Homo sapiens: one gene and its partners. The main gene of each other region encodes a partner of the protein of the gene in region 3 in a complex. Each region holds a gene or a part of one and is shown on either strand. Other genes may lie near its edges. A codon is read from its position in the direction of its gene.

Region 1 (7,105 bases), on a different chromosome or scaffold from region 3:
CAACCGGTGGAGGATGCAGTGAGCCGAGATCGTGCCACTGCACTCCTGTGAGTGAGACTCCATCTCAAAAAAACAAAAACAACAATACTAGAACAAACTTTAGATTTGCAATGTTTATTCTGAATTAACTAAAAAACCTTTAAAAAACATGTACTGGCAACAAAGATTTCTTGCTAATTTCCTTCCCCCTGTAAAGTATTAAGGAAATCTTAAACCTATATTTTAGGATTTGCTTTTTAAAATAAATAATGCTAGAGGCCTATGGAGAAGAATTATCAGAAGATACAGTAAGCTCCAAAATATCTCTAATCAGAACGAAAAGGAGTACACAGACTAGCATTAGCAGTAAAACTCCAATGGGACTGTGAGTAGTATCTAGTAAGATGTCACAGAGTACTGGGTGTCGCTTTAAATTCTTATCTGAATTAACTCATTTTTACAACCCTGTGAGTAGGTACAATTATCCTCACTTCCCACCACCCCCACCACCGACCCCTGCTTTTTTTTGAGACAGAATCTCACTCTGTAACTCAGTCTGGAGTGCAGTGGTGCCATCTTGGCTCACTGCAACCTCTGCCACCTGGGTTCACATGATTCTCCTGCCTCAGCCTCCTGAGTAGGTAAGACTATAGGTGTGTGCCACCACGTCCAGCTAATGTTTTGTATTTTTAGTAGAGACCAGGTTTCACTATGTTGGCCAGGTTGGTCTTGAACTCCTGACCCTCAAGTGATCCAGCCGCCTCGGCCGCCCAAAGTGCTGGGATTACAGGCGTGAGCCACCGCACCTGGCCTCCTTTTTCATAAATGAGAAACCAAGGCTTTAAAAAGTGAAGCAAGTTATTAGCTAGGTAATGCTGGACTGGAGATAGATTTTAAATACTCCTGACTCCAGAGTCCTCACTGTTAATCACTAAGTTAGAAACCTAAACTACAATTTTTGGCAAGGGAAATAAATTCCAAAGTAGGAATGCTTTATACAATTAACATCATATTCTTCCTCTGAACAGTAAGGTCACAATCTGGTTTATTAAAAATGTACAAGATTCCCATTTTTAAAAATGCTTAACCAAATTTAAAAATTCTAAAATTTAATTTTTTCTGAAAACTCTTTGTCCATGCTTCCTAATTAAATAAGCTCTAAGCTAGTCTACTGCAAAATGTAGCAGAAGAGACTATAACATTTATATTAACACTGGAAAATAACTTAAAAAGGAACAAAATTTCTCACAATTATCATATCTGGGTGGGACAGGCTTTGTTTATACCATTCCCCCCAACAAAAATCACTCTGGTTTGTGAACATTAAGGAATCCATCAACTTGCATGCAATTTTCCAACTCATCAAATAGTAGGCCAGGTGCCAGTGGCTCATGCCTGTAATCCCAGCACTTTGGGAGGCTGAGGCAGGCGGGCCACAATGTCAAGAGATCAAGACCATCCTGACCAACATTGTGAAACCCCGTCTCCACCAAAAAAAAAAAATACAAAAATTAGCTGGGCGTGGTGGCGCGCACCTGTAGTCCCAGCTACTCGGGAGGCTGAGGCAGGAGAATCGCTTGAACCCTGGCGACAGTGCAAGACTCTATCTCCAAAAGAAAAAAAAAAAAAAAGCAATAATGCCTTCTTTATGGAAAGCTGTGTGTCGATGGCTGTTAACTGGCACTTGAAAATGAGACAATTAAATGTTAAATACTTTAATAAAATGCCTAGTCATTGGCACAGATGAATCTTTTAACCTATTGTTATGGTCAATGAATGTAGGTTTATATAAGAACAGAAGCTGTGGGTCTGGGCAGTGAAATCAGAAATGTCTTCAGTGATAACTTCTCTTACTGATCAGGAATACCTCTTGTCATTATAATAACTGACAGTTTAAATGTTCTTTATGTCTCTAAGCAAACAAGAAAATACTGCATAATCAAAAGGGCATTATTTTCATCTTACAAAAAGCTTATTTAAAAAACATACAGATCAGAAAACTGGAAAAATCTGACTCTGACTTTAAGTATACGAAATACAAATTTTCATGCCTACATTTTATTATTAATGCATGGTCAGTTTGCTCTGGGTTTAGTCATGTTACAAAGTAGAATCTTATTTATTCCATTTCCACCTACGCTGTTTAAAAAGAATTAATTTAAAAAAGTCCTAGGTCACTGCCATGTAAATTTAATAGAAACTATGAGCACACAACCATCTACAAACCAAAAACGGACCCAGTCTCTGGTCTGAGGAGTAACGGCCCAAATCACAGGATGTGCTGTGGCAGTGGGTTACCTCTTTGGAAACAATACCTTATTTCTCCTGAATATTCAAAGAACAAAAAGGACATAACCAAAGTCACCTGGGGAAAATAGTTTTAAATCCTAAATTTGATTCTGAAAGTTTTTCAGAGGCCAAAAAATTTTCAACATTAGAAACAAACAAATAGTTACAGGTTTTCAAGCTATGATAATTTACGGTTTTTAACACTCTGAAACTACTAAAAAACCATAAATTATCATTAACCTCTCTTCTATATTTCTGGAAATACTGTAGGTGGGAAGAATTATCTAGGTAATAATTAAAGCTTTCCCCCTATGTTGCTTTAATATAGCAAATATTGTATTAAAAATCAGTTTAGTATGCTAGATATGGTTTCTAGTTTACATTTTAAAGTCTAATGCAGCCGGGCACAGTTGCTCATGCCTGTAATATCACTCCTTGGGGAGGCTGAGGAAGGAGGATCACTTGAGCCCAGGAGTTTGAGACCAGCCTGGGTAATATAGCAAGACCCTGTCTCTAAAATTTTTTTTTTATAAAGTCTAGTACAAAGTTAGAAAAGTTATGTTATGTCATTAATGACATACTTGTATATCATTAACATGTCACTTGTAACTGTTTTACTCTGCTCAATTTTCATATTGTTGAAAAAACCTCAACACCTTTTAAATCTCCCTTGAAATTTATAATTTATCTCACACGTAGACATTAAAATTCATATCATTCTACTCCTGGCAAATTTAAGAACATGCTTGTAATTAAAAATAAAACTCTATCCTGACTTCTTCAATCTAGTTGAAAAGGGAGTTGCTGCATATCTAATAATGCTGTGCTCAGCAAGCACTTGATCCTCACAAGGAGTCTTATGAACTAGATTTGTCTGAATTTTACAAATTAGCAAACTAAAGTTTAGCAATACAAAGCTGCCTTGTCAAAGGGAGCTAGCAAATGGTAGACCCAGGATTCAAACCCAGCTATGTCTAATTCTGCCACTCCAGCTAGCTCTTAACCACAGCCTCCCAAGACAAGTAAAACATGATCCTTTGCTTCAAGTTTACTTCCCACTTACTGGGAGTAAGTATGACATCCCAAAAGCGTCAGGATTACATCCTGAATGTTTCAGTAAGGTTCTTTTATAAAACCATAAAGACAACCATTAATTTTTAATCAATGCAGAATATAGCTCTGTAATATAAATAAGGGAAATAGAAAATTATCAATAATTTTAGAAAGCTATTCCTCAAATAACAACACAAGTGACGTGCATTTATATAACCAATATTTACTCAGCACTAATTATGTACCAGAGATGCAGCAGTGAACAAACACAAAGCAACTTCTTCTTAAATTCTATCAATTAATATACACATTATTGGTAATTTCATATCCAGTGGATGATTCTGTCAACACTTAGGCCTCCCAATTCCATGAAGTCTTTTCCTCTAATGATCTCATCTCCTACCCTCTCTTGGCCAGATCCCTAGACCTTGTCATTTCCAACTACTTCAATTTCCTAATTTCAAGCATGTCATTCTCTGATCACCACTTCCTAACACTCTAATGTGAGCAATCCTTGATCCAGTGGGACCTACAATGAACTGATCTACCTCTGTTTCCAGCACCTCCTCCTACACCCCCAATTAAAGCTCATGGTCATTCAGTCGTTGCTGTTGTCCTCATATATGCCCTCAACCTTTAGCAAAATCTTTACTCTCTACCTACTCCTCACCTGTAACCATCCAGGTGAGAGAGACTAGGAAAAAAATCCCATGATCACAATGACTGATTTCACTTTAAATCACTATCAGATAGGTACTTTGGAGGACACTTAATGCATCCCTGAATTAATTGCAGTTCCCTAATTCTTTCACCTTCCTAGCTTATTTCTTACTTTTCCACAAACCTGTAACACCTGTTTCAAATGATGTCCTTGCTCCTTATCTTTCTGAGATAACTGAAGCATACAGAAGATAATTCCCCCCAGCTCCCAAATTTGCCTGTCCTCCCTTTTTTATGATTGAACTGTCCAAGAGCCAATTTGAGCTATCAGTTTCTCCTTCTCTGGTACATCATCCCATCAGCCTGCAAACTTACCATTACTTTTCCCACTTAAAAAAAAGCAATTTCTTTCTCCAGCTACAACCCCATTTTTCTGTTCTTTCAAGCAAAATTCTTTAAATAAAAAAAAGGAAAAAAAAAAAAAAAGCAAGCCTGTAATGGCCACCTATAAATCCTCTCTTTTCATTCCCTTCCATACACTGAAATCTGTAAGCATTTTACTCCTGGCACTCTACCACAACCGTTCTGGAAGTCACCAAAGACTTCCACAGTGTCAAATCCAGGGGTCAATTAAATTCTCAGTCCTCACATATCTGTCCTATCAATGATATGACACACTTCTGCATTTGGCTTCCAGGATATCATTGCTCCCTGCTCCTCCAATCTCCTAAGACACTCTCCTTCACTCATTCCTCTGCAGCCTCAAAGGCTTCCTTAATGACTTCAAACATGCTAGGCACTCCTACTTCAGGACTTCTACACTAGCTGTCCCTCATCCCCTCTGTCTGGTATGTTTTTCCTATAGATGTCTGAATGGCTTAAAGTACCATGCAACATTCATTTGAATGTTCTGAGTGATCAAAGTGAAATGGCTACAACCGGAACACAATGAAGAGGTACAGAAAACAAAACTCAAACATCCCAAGGAAATGCGTGTTTTGGAACTTTTGGGGAGACAGCATGGTGCAGCCACATTCCATGATTGGCTCCAGTGGTGATCCAGGAAGTGCCTATGAGTAAGACTTGTATATTTCTCATCACTGCTCTTTCAACTTCTAGCACAGCACCTGACATGTAATAAATATTCAAGTATCTGATGATTGAGTATTGTATCATAAGGTGCTTCCATTTTCCTCGGTTAAATGAGCTGTATTTACACTCAATTTCTGTTCGCTAATGTAAAAAAGATTAGGTAAGTCTACAGTAACACTTTATGCTCCTTGTTAGTAATTGTCAGAAGCAGATTATCAATACAAACTATAACAAATATGTTAAAAAATCTCACTCTAACATACCAAAATATACGTACTTACACAGCGTAGGATTGAAATTAAATTTCAGCTATACGCATATTTAAGTTTTTGAAATGTCATGAAAAAAAGATAATCTTAGTTTTAATCCAAAACCAATGGCTTTAAGACAAAGACTGTAAAGGAAAAAAAAAATTAGGTATAAGGAACAAAGAAGAGGCACATGGAACTTCTGAATTAGGATCCTTTCTGGATACTAACTATATCAATTAGCAAAGTTATTTTTTTCTGTGCCTTTGGCTTTATGTTGCCAATCTCTTATTTCTGTAAGAGAAATATTAATTACTATACACTATGCAAATGCAAAGATCAGTATCAGGCACATAATTAGCTCCCAATACCATAAATCACCTCAAACAGACAGAAAAGCAATAGAAAATACAAGATAAAAGACATGTTGGCTAATACTTACACCAGGCAGCTGAGGTCTGCCAGATCATCGATGAAATCAAACAACTGACTGATGTCATATGTGATAGAGGGACTGTTGGGATTCATTCTTTTCAGATGTTCTTCATACATTTTACAAACACCTAAGAAAGGATAGGAAAAAAAGCAAAATCTTACAATCGCATACACTTCTAGATATGAGCAGTGCTTATGAGCTGTGCTATATGTTGATATCATATTTACTTTAATAAAGTTGGGCTGGGGAAAAGATGATAGATTGATGGCTTTTGATTATTGCCACTAGCAAATACTTTTTTATTTTATAAATTCACCAGGTCAGGTGTAGTGGCTTACGCCTGTAATCCCAGCTCTTTGGGAGGCTGAGGCAGGAGCATCACTTGAGCCCCACAGTTTAAGACCAGCCTGCCTGGGCAACACAGGGAGACCTCATCTCTACAAAAATTAAAAAATTAGCCAGGCGTGATGGCGTGTGCTTGTGGTCCCAGCTACCTGGGAAGCTGAGGTGGGAGAATCACTTGGCTGCAGTGAGCCGTGATTGCATCACTGCACTCCAGTCTGGGCAGCTGAGAAATTCACCACAATGTTGATGTAACTATTTTGTGTCTTAATAATAAAATGATTACTTCAAACCACTGGAGCTAAGGGGCTTTAAAGACTTGCCATCTGATGGCTCAAACAAATAACACTGTGGGTCTTAACAGGTTTTTCAGTAATTCTTCCTAAAGCCACAGAGCAAAAAAAAAAAAAAAATTGGCAACAAGGAAAGAGATTATCCTAATGTATATTTAAGATCCTAGACTAGGCCGGGCACAGTGGCTCACGCCTGTAATCCCAGCACTTTGGGAGGCCAAGGCGGGCGGATCACGAGGTCAGGAGATAGAGACCATCCTGGCCAACACAGTGAAACCCTGTCTCTACTAAAAAAATACAAAAAATTAGCCAGGCATGGTGGCAGGCACCTGTAGCCCCAGCTACTCGGGAGGCTGAAGCAGGAGAATGGCATGAACCTGGGAGGTGGAGATTGCAGTGAGCCGAGATCGGCCACTGCACTCCAGCCCGGGTGACAGAGCAAGACTCTGTCTCAAACAAACAAACAAACAAAAAATCCTAGACTATGGATTCAGACAGACTTTAGTTCCAACTCTGCCCCTGTCAAACCGAGGACAAACGACGCCATTCCCTGAACCACACCTGTCAAACAGAGTTAAGAGTGCCTCTTCATAGAATTGTGAGGTTTATTTGAAATAATACACATAAAGCATTAGCACATGAACAAGGATATAAGTACTTAAATATAATAAAAAAGATAATGAGCAAAATCATTAATAGCAAGCCCACATTAC
Region 2 (7,105 bases), on a different chromosome or scaffold from region 3:
TATTTTTCCATCTTGTACCAGAAGTATAGTGTGATACAACAATCACGAAATAAACCTGAAGCACATCATCGTTAATCACCAAGGAATGGAGTTTGATACAGACCTCCCTCTGTGCCAGCTTCTGTTTGTCAGTTTGTTTGACTTTGGGACTATTTGCTAGGAGGTGGCGAAGTTTCACATAACTCTTCCACAGTTTTTGGTACCTAAGGAAAAGGACAGGCAAACATCTCAGGTAAAGAGGAGGTAAACCTAAAATGCAACAAAACCAGTTATTTTAAGAGGCCTCTTCAAATCATACATTACATTCTTTTGATTATTCTTAATGGCAGAAAGCCATCATTCTAAGGAAGGCTATGACTTTGAGGCTGAGAGTCAGGATGGACAAGAGTCAACTGGAACCTGGTGATTAAGTTGATTATTGCTTATTTCAGTTGGAAATGAGGTGTGACTATATGAATGAATCTCTGGAAAGAATTCCAAAGACACAAAAACACCTCAACCAAAGGAATCATCCTGTTTCTCACTGTTACCTCTTGAAAATAACAGATTTTATTTAAATATACACTTTCTGATATTTGTTGAAAGAAAGACCCCTTCCTTAGGGAGACTGTCAGTTGCTGAACTACTTATACCAAATATAAGTTGAAGAGTATTAGAATAGAGAACCCCATTTGTGCCAAAACCCAAGCTACATAGCTGTATCCATTTGTCCACTGGAGAGGATAAAAGACTAATGGTGTATACCAATTTGTATTTACCATGACAATATAAGCATATTTGTTGCAGCCAAATAAGTGATAACCTAGACCAGTCTAAAGGATACTGTCAAAGCGTCCTGGAAATGAAGCGAATATGCAGTCCTTTATCAATTCACAGTCCTGCCATCTGAGAGTCCACGAGAGCCTCATCACATTCTACTAACATTTTTCTGACAAGAAGGGATTTTCCAAAGATTTTCTGTCACATTAAAACTGTTCCTTTCTTGGCCTTAGCTGGGCCTCTCCTTTTTTGAAAACTTTTTTTTTTTTTTTTAAGAGAATGGAGGAAAGAAAGAAGTACTTACACAGTGCCTGGTTCACTGCTTCATACTTTTATCCAAAGGGGGAAAAAAAAGAACAAAACCCTTTAGCCTCTTCTAATATATGTCAGCCAGAACTGTATTTATGAATTGAAAATCTCCCATGCCCTTTTCTCCCACTATGAATCCTTTTTAAAAAAAAAAAAAAAATAAGTCAGGAAGCTGTTTGTGTGTTTAGCAAGGTAGGAAATCCAAACAGTCCCGAAGAATCTAATGGTACTATCTCCATTCCCACACATCCTAAATCTTCTCCCAGAAAACACTAACATGCCAGTTGGAAAAATCAAAACGTGGAAAGTTACATCAATCCTAAGAGTCAGAAGTCACGGCTCCTACTTCCAACACAACCTTGACTTTGCATGTGATCTTGAACTCTTAAGATGCCCCCAAAAAGAGAACTCTGCATAAATTCGGCAGTGCTAGGAACCAATATGTGCTACTTTCCTCTAGAGGGCACTGAAAAAATAAAAAATAATAATTATTATTATAAGGATGAATAAAGAAAAAGTTCCTTAAAGTTTAAAAACATACAAGGACTTATGTTGACCAAGTTTGCCAAAAATATTCTATTGAATAATAGTTTCTTGCACTCAAATATGTACAGAAAATAATTCTTCAGGAGCTACCACAATTGTTTCATTTGGGTAATCTAAATTGGAAGTATGGCTCATTTCAGGTCTTAATTTTTAAAAAGGAAACATCCACTAAAGGGTATTTCTCTGCTAATTTGGCTGTTAGTAGAAGGTGAAATTGGCTAAGACAAACACTGAGAAATATCTTACTGTGGGTCTCCTGCATAACTCAACTGTGCAGGGCGTATCCCAAAGTGGACGATAATCGGAAAAGTAATCACATCGGGGTTGAACTGTTCACGATCCAGTTGATCGATACGGACAGAGCTTGGTTTCTAGAGAGAAAAATCAAAGCCATTTATTCCCATAAGAAGTCTTTATGTATTGACTTTAACCTAAGTAGGGAAGGAATAAATCGGACTTTTTTCCAGGAAAGCCTTGTCCCCAAAGGGAAAAGGTCATTTAAAACCCTTTAATTACAGCAGCTATACTATCTAAAAACTATAATGTCATCCTTGTAAATGAGCCTATGCCATTTGGCATAATGAACAATGATTTTGTCCTTTTTTGCAGTCCACATAGAAACCTTTAAAAATTAAACTTTTAAAAGGACACCTAGTCAGATATAACTTTTCCTTAACCTCTCTGAAGGCACAGGGGAAGGATTCCACATCACAGGCAGAGCCTCTTCTGCTTTAATTTCACATTTCAGAATGCACAGATGCCTCTATTTAAGTTTTTTCCCTCACTTGTTCTCAGTGGATCTTATGTATTCCTTTAATTCTACATCTTTAAGTTAGAAAGTATAGTGGTGCAAAGGCCAAATAGTTAAGCTTCTTTTATTATGTCCATGTAGGACATTTGTGTATTTTAACAGAGAGCCTCATATTTTTTTCTTCATGTCTAATAAAGGAAGAAGTGAATGGCTCATTCCTTCTGGATCATTTGTGAAATGGCTTTCATCTTGAAAGCTTAAATTTATGAAAAGATGGTAAAATCACAGAGAACAGGTTTCAGCAACCTCCTTCCTTATAATCACCTCTCAGGACAGTCTCAATTAGAGATTCAGTTTTCACTAGCACACTGTAGAGTCTGCGGCTCAGTTGCTTTGGAGGCTAAGGCTGTTAAAACTGATTCACACAGAGGCCAATAATCTTCATTCTGTCCCACAACAATGCCCAACAATTAGAGTCTGGTTGGCTGCCTGGTTTCCCTGGGACAGAGGAATTTCAATGCTAAAACCAGGAAATCTCTCAGCAACTGGGACAAACTGGTCACTCTACCTACAACTGTGATACCAGCCAGCCATCTGACAAATATTCAATGAGGTGACAAAAGGGATAAACTTGGGTGAATTCACCCACATTACTTAAAACACTCAAACCTTTGGGAGGCCAAGGCGGGTGGATCACGAGGTCAGGAGTTCGAGACCAGCCTGGCCAACATAGTGAAACCCCATCTCTACTAAAAATACAAAAATTAGCCGGGCGTGGTGGCGCACACCTGTAGTCCCAGCTACTCAGGGGGCTGAGGCAGGAGAATCACTTGAACCCGGGAGGCGGAGGTTGTAGTGAGCTGAGATCGCACCACTGTGCTCCAGCCTGGGCAACAGAGTGAGACTCTGTCTCAAAAAACAAAACAAAACAAAAAAAAAACCCCTCAAACTTTTTAAGTGTCATTTAACAAACAAAATGTCACTAGCTTCTTGAAAAGTTGGTCTCTGCTCTCAAAATTTGAAAATGGAAAATATTTTGTTCACATGTAATCCATTATAAAATTATTTAAATGCCCATCAACAGTAGCAACGTGCTATTTAAGGTCAAAGAATTACTTTCATTATTTTGTACAACAAAACAGCAGGATACATTTTTAGAATGCGAACTGTGGAATAGAATGCTATTGAATTATTCATGTTTCTGTGATTTTAAACACCATGCCATGGTACCAACACAGGAAACAGTGATTTAAAATATCTATAGTATCTCTAAATTTATGGCAGGGGTTGAGGGAGCAGGAAATGAAATATATTCTAGACTTTGGCTACACCCTATAACATTTATTATGCCATCTTTGTTTAAGAATAAAAAATGACAAAAGTCACTAATGACAAAAGTATTCCTTGGAAGATTAATTCTTTTAAGTTCTGCAGCAATATAGTATTTAAAGTGACCATAATGGCTTGAAATTTTTAATAAATTTCCCAATATTCTTGCCATTTTGCAATCTTTCAAAGCAAGTCCTACAGAGGATGAAATGTAGTGTGGTGTCTACCTTGTCGTATGAGTAACTTGCACACTTCTCAGTAGGATGTTTTCATAATACTGAATTCTCAAGATTTTTTTCCTCCTTTAAGCATATCTTCAGATAAACAGTATAAAAGAATTAACTTCAACACATTCCTAAGCCTGACACTGAAACTTCCAATAAAAATCTTTCATACTGACTAGGTCTGACTTCATGTTGTTAATACTGGCTTTACAGCATCTCAAGGATGCACAGTTAATCATGCCAATAATTTCTACAATTTCTCAATTCCTCAGAGATCTTACTGTTTAGGAAGCACCCCTGGCAAGCCTATCCCAGTGATAGCTCCTAAAATGAGAGGCTTTCCTGATGCATCCATTGGCTCAACCATTCATCAAAGACTCCTTTCATATGTTAGTGGTCTTTGGGTTTTCACCTGGGCAAGCATCATACATTAGTTTGGTGCAAAAATAGTTGCGGTATGGCAGACCCCCGCAACTACTTTTGTGCCAGCCTAACATATAACTTCACTAGCACCTGGCTCATATAGTAGTCCCTTGACAAATTAGTTGAATGATGATCATGGTGATCATAAACTTCATCTATGCCACTGGCTCAAAAACAAGCAGTGAGAAAATCAAACGTTTGAGGATTTTTTTTTAACTACAGAAAACTGGGCCTCACTGCCTGGAGTATATAAGGTAGCTATATCCTTAAGCCAGGGTATCCTTAAGTTTTTTTTTAAACTCTCCAGCTGATTCTAGATTTCAGGAAAACGTAACTATACCATGGAAGGAAGTCCAGGGTGAACGTGCTCCCCCCGTGTCTACCACAGAACATGGAACTCTCCAAGTGGAACCACCCAGCTGAAACTGGACATCTGCCACCACCACCGCCCCATCCTCTGACTCAGCATGAAAAGTGACAGAGGGAATATCAATATATGCAACTGTTTTAAGAATAAAAATAGAATTCACAGTCTTACTCTGAGAGTGTTATTACTTACATATTTCTTTTAAAGTTACTTTAATAATTATGTGGCTTAACAGTATAACAGTAAAAATTATACGATTTTCTGGTTTTAAACATGTTTTATGTTTAAACATATTTTTATTAAACAATTTTACTTTCTGGATTTGTTTAAAAGAATCCATACTAGCCAGAATGTTTTATTTGCAAATAGCAACATTTTGTTTGTGCAGATGTTACTGTCATGCTACAAAAAGTAGATCCAGAGTTTTTAGTTTATGAATCAAAGCTATTAAGCAATTGGCAGCTTTTTGGAAAACAACAGCTTTGTTAAGTAGATTATTCCATTTATTTTCACGGAAATATTTTAATTCTTCATTTCTATAAAATTTTATCCTTATAAGATGCCAACATATAACTATTTTATGAAACAGTAACACTAATTTAGAAGAAAAAAATTGATATAAAGAAAATGTTATGTCTTTATATAAGAACTAGTTTTCTTTTAATTATATCCTTTTAATGTTTGCATTTTTTACTTCTAAAATTGAATATTAAAAGCTAATTTTAAAACAAAAAACTTAAGTAGCACCCAAAGAAATGTAAAATATTTATAATAATTATGGCGGAGGATCAATAAAAAAGAAGGCTACAAAAAAGATCAAAGGATATTAACAAGCAATTAACAAAAGAAAACATGAATGGGCAATAAACATTTAGAAATCAAAATAAATACAAAACTGAACTAAGACATTTCCCGCCCCCCAACTCTCATCAAATTCCCTTAGTATAACCAGCATGAAGATATGGTTGCTCTCATATGCTCCCAGAGTACAAATTTTACAGCCCTTCTGGAAAGCAATCTGCAACATGCGTCAAAAGCCTTAAAAATGTACCTATCTTCAGGTAGAATAAATTTACTAAATTAGGTGAATTTACGACCAAATATGCCTAAATTGTAATATTTTCTTATTTACTAAATATTTAAAGGAAAAATTATCCAAGGACAAGAGCAGTGACTACCTAAAACTTTTAAAATGTGCTGTTACTGTTTTCATGAAACATTCAGATCTGGAAAAGAAGGTCCTCCAGCCTCTGAATATACAGACACCAGAACATACCGTCCCAGGGTTGGTAACAATCATGCCTTTGCATTCTTCTGCATATTTCTGCCACTCCAGCTCCTCCCACTGAAGCATATTGGCAATCTCCTCCTCAGGCACCAGGGCTTTGCTGCACCTTAACAAGTACAGGAGAATCTGGTGCATGGACAGCACTTCCTTTCCTCCATCTTGGGTGGGAATGGGAGTGGAGAGAAGGGGAAAAATAAGGCTACTCAACTTACAGCAAATCAACAACTGAATAAGGAAAAAAACAAGACAATGGAGGAAAAAGAGCACATACAAAAAGGTAATGTAAAATTTACACTGTTTAACCAGGTGCCAAATAATATGAAAGCCATTTGTTTCATTGATGAACAGTGCTCATAAACCATCTCATTTACTAAATTGGCAACAACAACATTATAAATGATAAAAGGCTCCATTTGTGAGGTATGAATATAAAAAAGGTGCCTATCTAAATAAATTTAAAGCCACCTAGCATAAATAACCATAGTTTATAATATACAGAACCATGTTAGGTCTTAAATATTTTATCATTCTTTCTGAGGTAACAGATGAAAGCTCTTTAGAAGTGATGTTACTGTCTTAAGGAAATTCTAAGCTTTTGTGAGATATTTATGGATGTCTTCAATAAGCTGTTGTTGCATTATGGTCTAATTTTTTGGTGCTAATGTGCTGCACCTGCCATGATGAACAGAGCTAAAGAGCCTGTGCTAATATCATGGAAGATCATTATGGAGTTAGTACATGGAAAAAAAACCAAGTGCTCTGAGGCCTACAGAAGCATATAGCACCAAGTACAGGGGATAAAAATAACAAAGGGCATCATTCAAGTACCTTGGAAAAAGCCAATTAATCTAGTATTTGATGAACTAAAGACATCCACTTCATTTGGGCATTAATGTGGGGTCCACAGGCTTCTGCCTTCTCTTTGGACTTAACTTCTGGACCAACATGGGCAACCATTTTATATCTCTTTTCTTTGCCTACACCCAACCAAACAAAGGACAAGAGCCCTGAAGAGGACAATCATTACCCTCTCCCAGGTTATGAGATAGGCTATGAACAGTAGTACAGGACCAAACACTTCAGGGAGAAAGAAAGGGACAAAGAGCACA
Region 3 (8,095 bases):
GAGTGAGACTCCGTCTCAAAAATAAAAAGTAAAATAATAATAATAATAATAAAAGGTAAACAGAAATCTTCATAATCTCAAATACTGTAAGAAAACTTTGTCATTTCAACAGAGAAGATCAAGTTAAAGTTCTGCATCATAGCACTACTAATAAAGCTAATTTTAACAAAACCTTATAAATGAATCCATCCAATCTCATGCAAGATAATATTTCTTTTCCAAGATTTCTTTTCTATAGATCTTTTACAACTTAAAAAAAATATCTGGCCGGGCACGGTGGCTCATGCCTGTAATCCCAGCACTTTGGGAGGCCGAGGCGGGTGGATCATGAGGTGAGGAGATCGAGACCAGCCTGGCTAACACGGTGAAACCCTGTCTCTACTAAAAATATAAAAAATTAGCCAGGTATGGTGGCGGGCAGCTGTAGTTCCAGCTACTCGGGAGGCTGAGGCAGGAGCATGGCGTGAACCCGGGAGGCAGAGGTTTCAGTGAGTCGAGATCTTGCCACTGCACTCCAGCCTGGGTGACACAGAGAGATGCCATCTCAAAAAAAAAAAATCTATCAGTACTTTTTTTCCCCTACATTTTTTTTCTTTCTCATTCTGGAACAACCAGTTGCTATATATATTAGCACAGAGTCAGTTATTCCTTTAAGGGATTTTATAAATTAATTTGGTGCTACTATCTGGAGGTAGAAAAATATCATGTATATATAACATACAAACATACATATGTAGTTGCTCTGCAACTGAAGTTGGCAGAGGCCAGACCCAGTGGCTCACGCCTGTAATCCCAGCACTTTGGGAGGCCAAGGCAGGCAGATCACTTAAGGCCAGGAGTTTGAGACCAGTCTTGCCAACATGGTGAAACCTGGTCTCTACAAAAATACAAAAAAATCAGCTGGGCGTAGTGGCGTGCGCTTATAGTCCCAGCTACCTTGGAGACTGAGGCAGGAGAATAGCTTGAACCCAGGAGGTGGAGGCTGCAGTGAGCCGAGACTGCGCCACTGCACTCCAGCCTGGGTGACCCAGTGAGTCTCTGTCTTAAATAAATACATAAATAAATAAACAAACAAATAAATAAAGTTGGCAGAGTATATAGTCTGAAGGGGTTTGAGGAAAGGGGATTCAGGTGACTGAGAAGTTCCGATGGGAGAAGTAGGATCCAATAGAGAGAACAGAGAGGCCTCACAGTGGGAAGAAAAGACTGCCAGCCCAGGAGTCAGGGAGTGAATCCCCATTCAGAATGAAGAGCCACAAGGAAGACCTTCCAACCCAGGAAGTATTATACCTTTCAAAAGAAGGCTGGGACCTTAAAAATCAAAATCTGTCCTTACCAGCTAAAATAAAAGTTTTTCTACAGTCATGGCTCAGGAGTTTGACTCACCAGTAGATCCCCAATCAGCCAGTCAGAAGACAAAGGCTGCAAAGTTGCACATTGAGAGTCCTGGGTCAGAGGCCTGTGGCACCACAACCATTAAAGAAAAAAATTATTCAGCCCTTGTCAAAGCACGGTCGGGAAGGCCTTATTCAGGAGCATTGCCACTGGCATATGGACCACAGGCAATGGGGTTTTGCTGCAGGGGAGAGATTGGGCTGAACTCTGAATACAGCATGGACAAGTGTGAACTGATAGCCAAGGAGCAGGGCGGGGGTCAGTGGATGAAAAATTACTAAGAAGAAACATAAGTGATAAGGGGGATACTGGCTAAGCTGACCTAAGAGGATTCTTGCTGAAGACAGGCTGGGGTGATCAGACATCACCTAGAGGATGGTGGAGGGATGAGGAATTTCATCAGTATTGAGGGCGATCAGATATCAAAAGCAGGGTGGTTCTTGCTAAACTGGAATTCTCAGACGGGCCTAGAAGATTTAGGAGCCTGACTAAAGTTTGGCCAAGCAAATAATCTTTTGTCAATACAACAACACGATACTTTTTACTGTTTGTTTTTTTTTTTTTTTTTTTTTTTTTTTTTTTTGAGACAGAGTCTCCTGCTGTCTCCCAGGCTGGAGTGCAGTGGCGCGATCTCAGCTCACTGCAACCTTTGCATCCCGGGTTCAAGCAATTCTCCTGCCTCAGCCTCCCAAGTAGCTGCAACTACAGGTGCGTGCCACCATGCCCGGCTAATGTTTTTGTATTTTTAGTAGAGACGGGGTTTCACCCTGTTAGCCAGGATGGTCTCGATCTCCTGACCTCGTGATCTGCCTGCCTCAGCCTCCCAAAGTGCTGGGATTACAGGCGTGAGCCACCGCGCCAGGCCAATACAATAGTATTAACTAATCTACAGACCTTGTTTGAATTATATCAATTGTCCCATTAATGTCCCTTTTCTGAGCCAGGATCCCATCTATCGTCTGGATTCCACACTGCATTTTGTTATCTCTTTTAATTGAAGATGGCTCCTCAGTCCATCTTTGACTTGAATGATCTCGATACTTGAAAAGCACTGGCTGGTAATTTTGCAGAATGCCCCTAATTTGGGGTTTGTCTGCTCTTCATTCAGATTCTGCCTTTTGGGCAAAAATACCCACAAGTGAACTTGTGTTCTTCTCAGGAGGTCCACAGTATGTCCTCTTACTGGAACTAACTTTTTTCATTTCTATTGAGGCAGAATTTATATACAATGCAATACACATGTTTAAATGGTACAATTTGCTAAGTTTGCTGGTGACCTTGATGGCTTGGTTAAAGGTGGTGTCGCCCAAGTTTTCTTCCACTCTAAAACTACTATTTTCCCTAGGCAATTAGTATCCTGGGGGAGAAACTTTGCAACACTGAAAACAAAACAAAACCTGTTTGTCATGTTTTTGCCCACTATTTTTTTTTTTTTTTGAGATGGAGTCTCACTCTGTCACCCAGGCTGGAGTGCAGTGGCGTGATCCCGGCTCACCACAACCTCTGCCTCCCAGGTTCAAGTGATTCTCCTGCCTTGGCCTCCCGAGTAGCTGGGACTACAGGCACGTGCCACCATGCCCAGCTAATTTTTTTTGTAGTTTTAGTAGAGACGAGGTTTCACCATCTTGGCCAGGATGGTCTTGATCTCTTGACCTCGTGACCCACCCGCCTCGGCCTCCCAAAGTGCTGGGATTACAGGCGTAAGCCACTGTGCCTGGCCTAATTTTTTTGTAGGGGGTTGGGGGCCGGGGACCGAGTCTCGTTCTGTTGCCCATGCTGGAGTGCAGTGGCTGGATCTTGGCTCACTGCAACTCCTGCCTCCCAGGTTCAAGCAATTCTCCAGCTTCAGCCTCCGTAGCTGGGACAACAGGCACCTGCCACCAAGCCCTGCTATTTTTTTTTGTATTTATAGTAGAGACAGGGTTTCACCATGTTGGTCAGGCTGGTCTCGAACTCCTAACCTCAAGTGATCCGCCCGCCTCGGCCTCCCAAAGTGCTGGGATTACACGCATGAGCCACTGTGCCTGGCCTTGCTCACTATTTTTTCTGGAGACGGTCTCGTTCTGTCACCCAGGTTGGAGTGCAGTGGCCCGATCTCAGATCATTGCAACCTCCACCTCCCGGGTTCAAGCGATTCTCCTGCCTCAGCCTCCCGAGTAGCTGGGATTACAGGTGCCTGCTACCACGCCTGGCTACTTTTTGTATTTTCAGTAGAGATAAGGTTTCGCCACGTTGCCCAAGCTGGTGTGGAACTCTTGAGCTCAGGTGATCCGCCTGCTTCGGCCTCCCAAAGTACTGGGGTTACAGGCGTGAGCCACAGGGCCCGGCCCACTATTTTTATCACTCAAGATTTTCGTCTACAGCAGCTATTATTGGGGTGGCTACCCAGTGGAAAATTTTTCTATTTCCACTATTCCTTCCACATTTATTGACAGGAAAGCTAGTCTAAGGAAGAGCTGTACCCTCACTTACTCAGACCCTCGTTTTCCTTTTTTTTTTTTTTTTTTTTGAGACGGAGTCTCACTCTGCCGCCCAGGCTAGAGTGAAAGTGGTGCTATCTCGGATCACTGCAGCCTGGAACTCCTGGACTCAGGTGATCCTTCCACCTCAGCCTCCCGAGTAGCTCGGACCACAGGCGCCCGCCACCACGCGGCTAATTAAAAATAATTTTGGGCCCGGCGCGGTGGCTCATGCCTGTAATCCCAGCACTTTGGGAGGCCGAGGCGGGCAGATCAATTGAGGCCAGGAGTTTGATACCAGCCTGGCCAACATGGTGAAACCCCGTCTCTACCAAAAATATAAAAATTAGCCGGGCGTGGTGGTGGGCGCCTGTAATCCCAGTTACTCGGGTGGGTGAGCCAGGAGAATCGCTTGAATCCGGGAGGCAAAGGTTGCAGTGAGCTGAGATCGCGCCACTGCACCCCAGCCTGGGAGACAAAGCGAGACACCGCCTCAAAAAAAAAAAAAAAAAGAAAGAAAATTTGTAGATACTGGGCTCTCACTATGTTAGCCAGGCTGGTCTCGAACTCCTGGGCTCAAGTAATCCTCCTGACTCGACCTCCCAAAACTCTGGGATTACAGGCGCAAGCCACCGTGCCCGGCCGAACCACCGTGCCCGGCCGAACCCTCCCTGTTTTGGAAATCCTGTATTAGCAAAGGGGACAGCGCCAGACAGTTGAGCACACGCGTTCTTTATAAATGATGATGTCTGATACAGTGATGCTTTTAACAGGGTTGTGTAACGCCTGTGTGTGCACGGTCTCTTCTGCAGTGTCCACCGAAGGTGGCCCGTCTGCGTGTCCGCTCCCGGCGTACTCCGCGCTCCCTGTTCCCGGCATTCCCCGCGCTCCCCGAGCTTCCCGCGCTCCCCTGCTCCCGGCATTCCCGGTGCTTCCCGTTCCCGGCGCTCCTCGCGGCCGCCGCCCTCAGTCCAGCGAGCCCCGCCTGGGCAGCGACTGTTAGCGCGACCGCGGCCTGGGCGCCTGGTCCCTCCCGCGCGGCCGCGCTATTGGGCCGCGCGCGGCGGACACACGCGCTACGCGCCGCCGATTGGCGGCCTCCGCAGCGCGCTCTGCGGCTCCCCCAATGCGGGGCGGCCGCGCGCGGGGATTGGCCGCACGCCGCGAAGGCCCGCCCTCCGCTCGCCCGGCGCGGCAGGCGGGTGCCGGCGACCGGAGAGCCTGGACAGGCTTTCCAGATGGCTGCGGCGGTCGGTCGGTGAGGCTTTCCCGGCTGTGGTTTGGCTGCGGGCGGCTTGGGCAGCCCGCGGGCGCCTCAGGTAGGTGCGGGGCGCGAGGGGCGCCCGCGGGCGGTTGGGCGGGCGCCGCGGCCTGCGCGAGGGCGCGCCCTTCCCTCCCGCCTCCCTCCGGGACCGAGGCCGCGGGCGGGGCGGGGGCGCGGAGCCCGGCCTTTGTGAGGCAACATGGCCGCGGGCGGTGGAGAGCGCGGGGTGGGGACGCCTCCGGGGCTGGGGGGCGGGCCCCGGGCCCAGGCGTTGCCGACTCTCGTCGCTGTCCGCCCGGGTAAAGAGGCTCCTCTCCCGGAGGGCCCGAAGCCTAGCATCGCCTTCAGGCGGGAAAGGTGTGGACAGGGCCAGTGCTCGCCTGGGACCCTGCCGGCTTTAACACAGTTTGGGAAATCCAAGAAGTCGCCTAAGTCTTTTTGTCCACAGAATGCTCACGGGTTGAGTGTCACGTAGATAATTGGGATACGGTTTTATTGTAACAATGAGCATGGCGGAAATAAATGGAAGGTGGCAACCTGTTGACAGTGATGCCTGTCTGGTGTCAACCGATGGACTTGGGTTTCTTGTGGCAGGAGTCTGATTTGCCTTTTTGCATGCTTGCATGTACCTTGTTCCTGCACGGCAGTCCTGTCTTTGGCTGTCGACTGTTCGAGGCCAACCACCAGGCGAGGATCCACTGTTTCCTGGCCAGACTAGACTCCCAGCTGTGGGAGTGGCCCAAACCCTGCTGCAGGCCTTCACTCACAAAAGGGAGTGAATGGCCAGCCCGGGGTACCCAGTGTTGCCTCTAAGTGCGGGATATGAGGCCTGTTGGAGGATGACAAAAGGAACGGATGAGGTCATACTGCCGCTGGGTTGGGCGGGAGGCTGCAGCGGGAGAGACTTGACCAAAAGGCAGCCTCCATGGCGCTGGCACTGGTGCTGGCCCGTCACAGCCAGTGCCTCTGTTAGCCAACACAGCAAGTGGGCTAGGAGGAAGGGTGCTGTCCAAGTGTACGGGTTTTCTCCCCGTGCCAAGGGTCCAGGGGAGCTTGCCGTGAGCCCGTTCCTGTCCGATAGTCCTGTTGGCAAGGCAGGGTTTGCATGCGGTGTTTGGTCAGCTGGAGCAGTGGGGAGGCCTACGGGCAGAGAGCTCCCCTTTGAGCCCTTTGCGGCCAGGCGCTGTGTGGAGCACTTCCCAGGGGTTGTTTTGTAGTCTCACCGTGACCTTGGGGTAGGAAATGTGCTTCTGGCTGGCTTGCCCAGTCTTAGACTCTCTTGTTGTAGCCCTCTCCTTTGTGATGTCACCCAGCCTCCTGACTTTAATGCCAGCTTTCCTTGACATCTTCACAGCTCCAGCCCTGGCCTCTCTTCTGATTTCCAGCCTGGTGTTTCTGGCCACCTCTTCCATATCTCCATGTGTTACTTTGGCGCCAAGTAGCCATATCCAAACCAAACTCAAATCTTCACCCATGCCAAAACATTCCTTGGCCTATCTAAAGTCCCTTTGATTCCTCTCTTTCTTACACCTTCATGCAGTCCTAAGGAGGCCCCGTCAGCTCACCTATTTCTAAGCACAGACCATTTCTCACCACCTTCAAGTTAACATCCTGGCCCAGCCTACCTGGTGAGCCTCTAATTCTCTTTACTGTCACCTTAGGTCCTCACTCCCCATCCACCATCTATAGTTTTTCTGGACACAGAGTGATTCTTCTTTCTTTCTTTTTTTTTTTTTTTGTTTTTTTGAGACAGAATCTCGCTCTGTCGCCCAGACTGGAGTGCAGTGGCGTGATCTCAGCTCACTGCAACTTCTGCCTCCCGGGTTCAAGCGATTCTCCTGCCTCAGCCTCCCAAGTAGCTGGGACTGCAGGCGTCCACCACCACCACGCCCGGCTGATTTTTGTATTTTTAGTAGAGACGGGGTTTCACCATGTTGGCCAGGCTGGTCTCGAACTCCTGGCCTCAAATGATCTGCCTGCCTCAGCCTTCCAGAGCGCTGGGATTACAGGCGTGAGCCACTGTGCCTGGCCACAGAGTGATTCTTTTTATTTTTTTGAGACAGAGTCTCGCTTTGTTGCTCAGGCTGGAGTGCAGTGGTGCGATCTCCCGCTCACTGTAAGCTTCGCCTCCTGGGTTCAAGCCATTCTCCTGCCTCAGCCTCCCGAGTAGCTGGGACTATAGGCGCCCACCACCACACTCGGCTAATTTTTTGTATTTTTAATAGAGACGGGGTTTCAATGTGTTAGCCAGGGTGGTGTCGATCTCCTGACCTTGTGGTCCGCCTGCCTCAGCCTCCCAAAGTGCTGGGATTACAGTCGTGCACCACCGCGCCCGGCCCAGAGTGGTTCTTTTAAACCATAAGATGGTATAAAACAGAGGCGGTGTAGATGCAAGCCAGCTTGCCTGCTTGTAAAGCAGCTCCATCACTTCCTGGCTGTATGACCTTGAGCATGTGGGTGAACCTTTCTTCCATAATGCTATGTGAGACCTGGGTGAGTTAAAATGCTTAAAGTGCTTAGAACAGGGCCTGGCTGAGGTTTGGTTGCCACTGCTATCCTGGAATCAGCTGATGCCACTGTGTGGGCCTTCCTATCCGGTGGCCCATCTCTCTCACTAAGAGCCAAAGTCCTGGCAGCAGCCTGGGAGGACCAGCCCTGATCCATCTGCCCTCATGGACTTGGCCCACTGTCACGTCCCCTCAGCACACTGCCCCAGCTGGCCACACCACATTCCTGACCCCAGCCCTCTGCTTTTCCTCTCAGTGTCACCTGGAACATCCCCTCCTCCCAGCCCTGTAACCCACCTGGCTCACTCCTGCCTTCACGTGGATGCAGGCCATGAGGCCTTCTTGGATCCCCCTTCCTAAAACTGCCTCCCCTTCTTCAGGCGCTTTCCTTGTTTTGTTTTTGCTTGAATACTTCTTGGCATGTGACAGGGTGCATGCTTTTCTTAGTTGTTAGCGGTCCATCTCCCCCA

Evidence for each region.
Region 1: the proteins of DGCR8 (region 3) and ERH are in contact, whole or in part, in a crystal structure (PDB 7CNC), measured with the Homo sapiens proteins. Residues at the interface, in NP_073557.3 of Homo sapiens: Lys107, Phe108, Ser109, Pro110, Asp111, Leu112, Leu114, Leu115; in NP_004441.1 of Homo sapiens: Val8, Pro10, Thr11, Thr18, Tyr19, Ala20, Glu27, Lys34 (codon at 5,876), Met35 (codon at 5,873), His39 (codon at 5,861), Arg42 (codon at 5,852), Met43 (codon at 5,849), Phe60 (codon at 5,798), Leu64 (codon at 5,786).
Region 2: the proteins of DGCR8 (region 3) and DROSHA are in contact, whole or in part, in a crystal structure (PDB 5B16), measured with the Homo sapiens proteins. Residues at the interface, in NP_073557.3 of Homo sapiens: Asn728, Ile731, Leu732, Lys734, Leu735, Gln736, Glu738, Met739, Lys740, Leu742, Ala743, Arg746, Arg750; in NP_001369437.1 of Homo sapiens: Leu984, Leu987, Phe988, Thr998, Tyr999, Thr1001, Ala1002, Ile1003, Gln1005, His1008, Phe1069, Asp1073, Leu1074, Glu1076, Val1077, Trp1078, Asn1080, Pro1082.

Annotation. Positions count from the first base shown.
Region 1 is NC_000014.9:69,381,200-69,388,304, forward strand, and holds part of ERH (enhancer of rudimentary homolog), read right to left. Parts: intron 5,885-7,105; coding exon 5,764-5,884; intron 5,139-5,763; exon of another isoform or gene 4,847-5,138; intron 1-4,846. UniProt on the Homo sapiens protein: May have a role in the cell cycle.
Region 2 is NC_000005.10:31,466,079-31,473,183, forward strand, and holds part of DROSHA (ribonuclease 3), read right to left. Parts: intron 6,155-7,105; coding exon 5,985-6,154; intron 1,986-5,984; coding exon 1,861-1,985; intron 204-1,860; coding exon 104-203; intron 1-103. UniProt on the Homo sapiens protein: Ribonuclease III double-stranded (ds) RNA-specific endoribonuclease that is involved in the initial step of microRNA (miRNA) biogenesis.
Region 3 is NC_000022.11:20,075,211-20,083,305, forward strand, and holds the start of DGCR8 (microprocessor complex subunit DGCR8), read left to right. Parts: upstream 1-5,030; 5' UTR 5,031-5,173; intron 5,174-6,464; exon of another isoform or gene 6,465-8,095.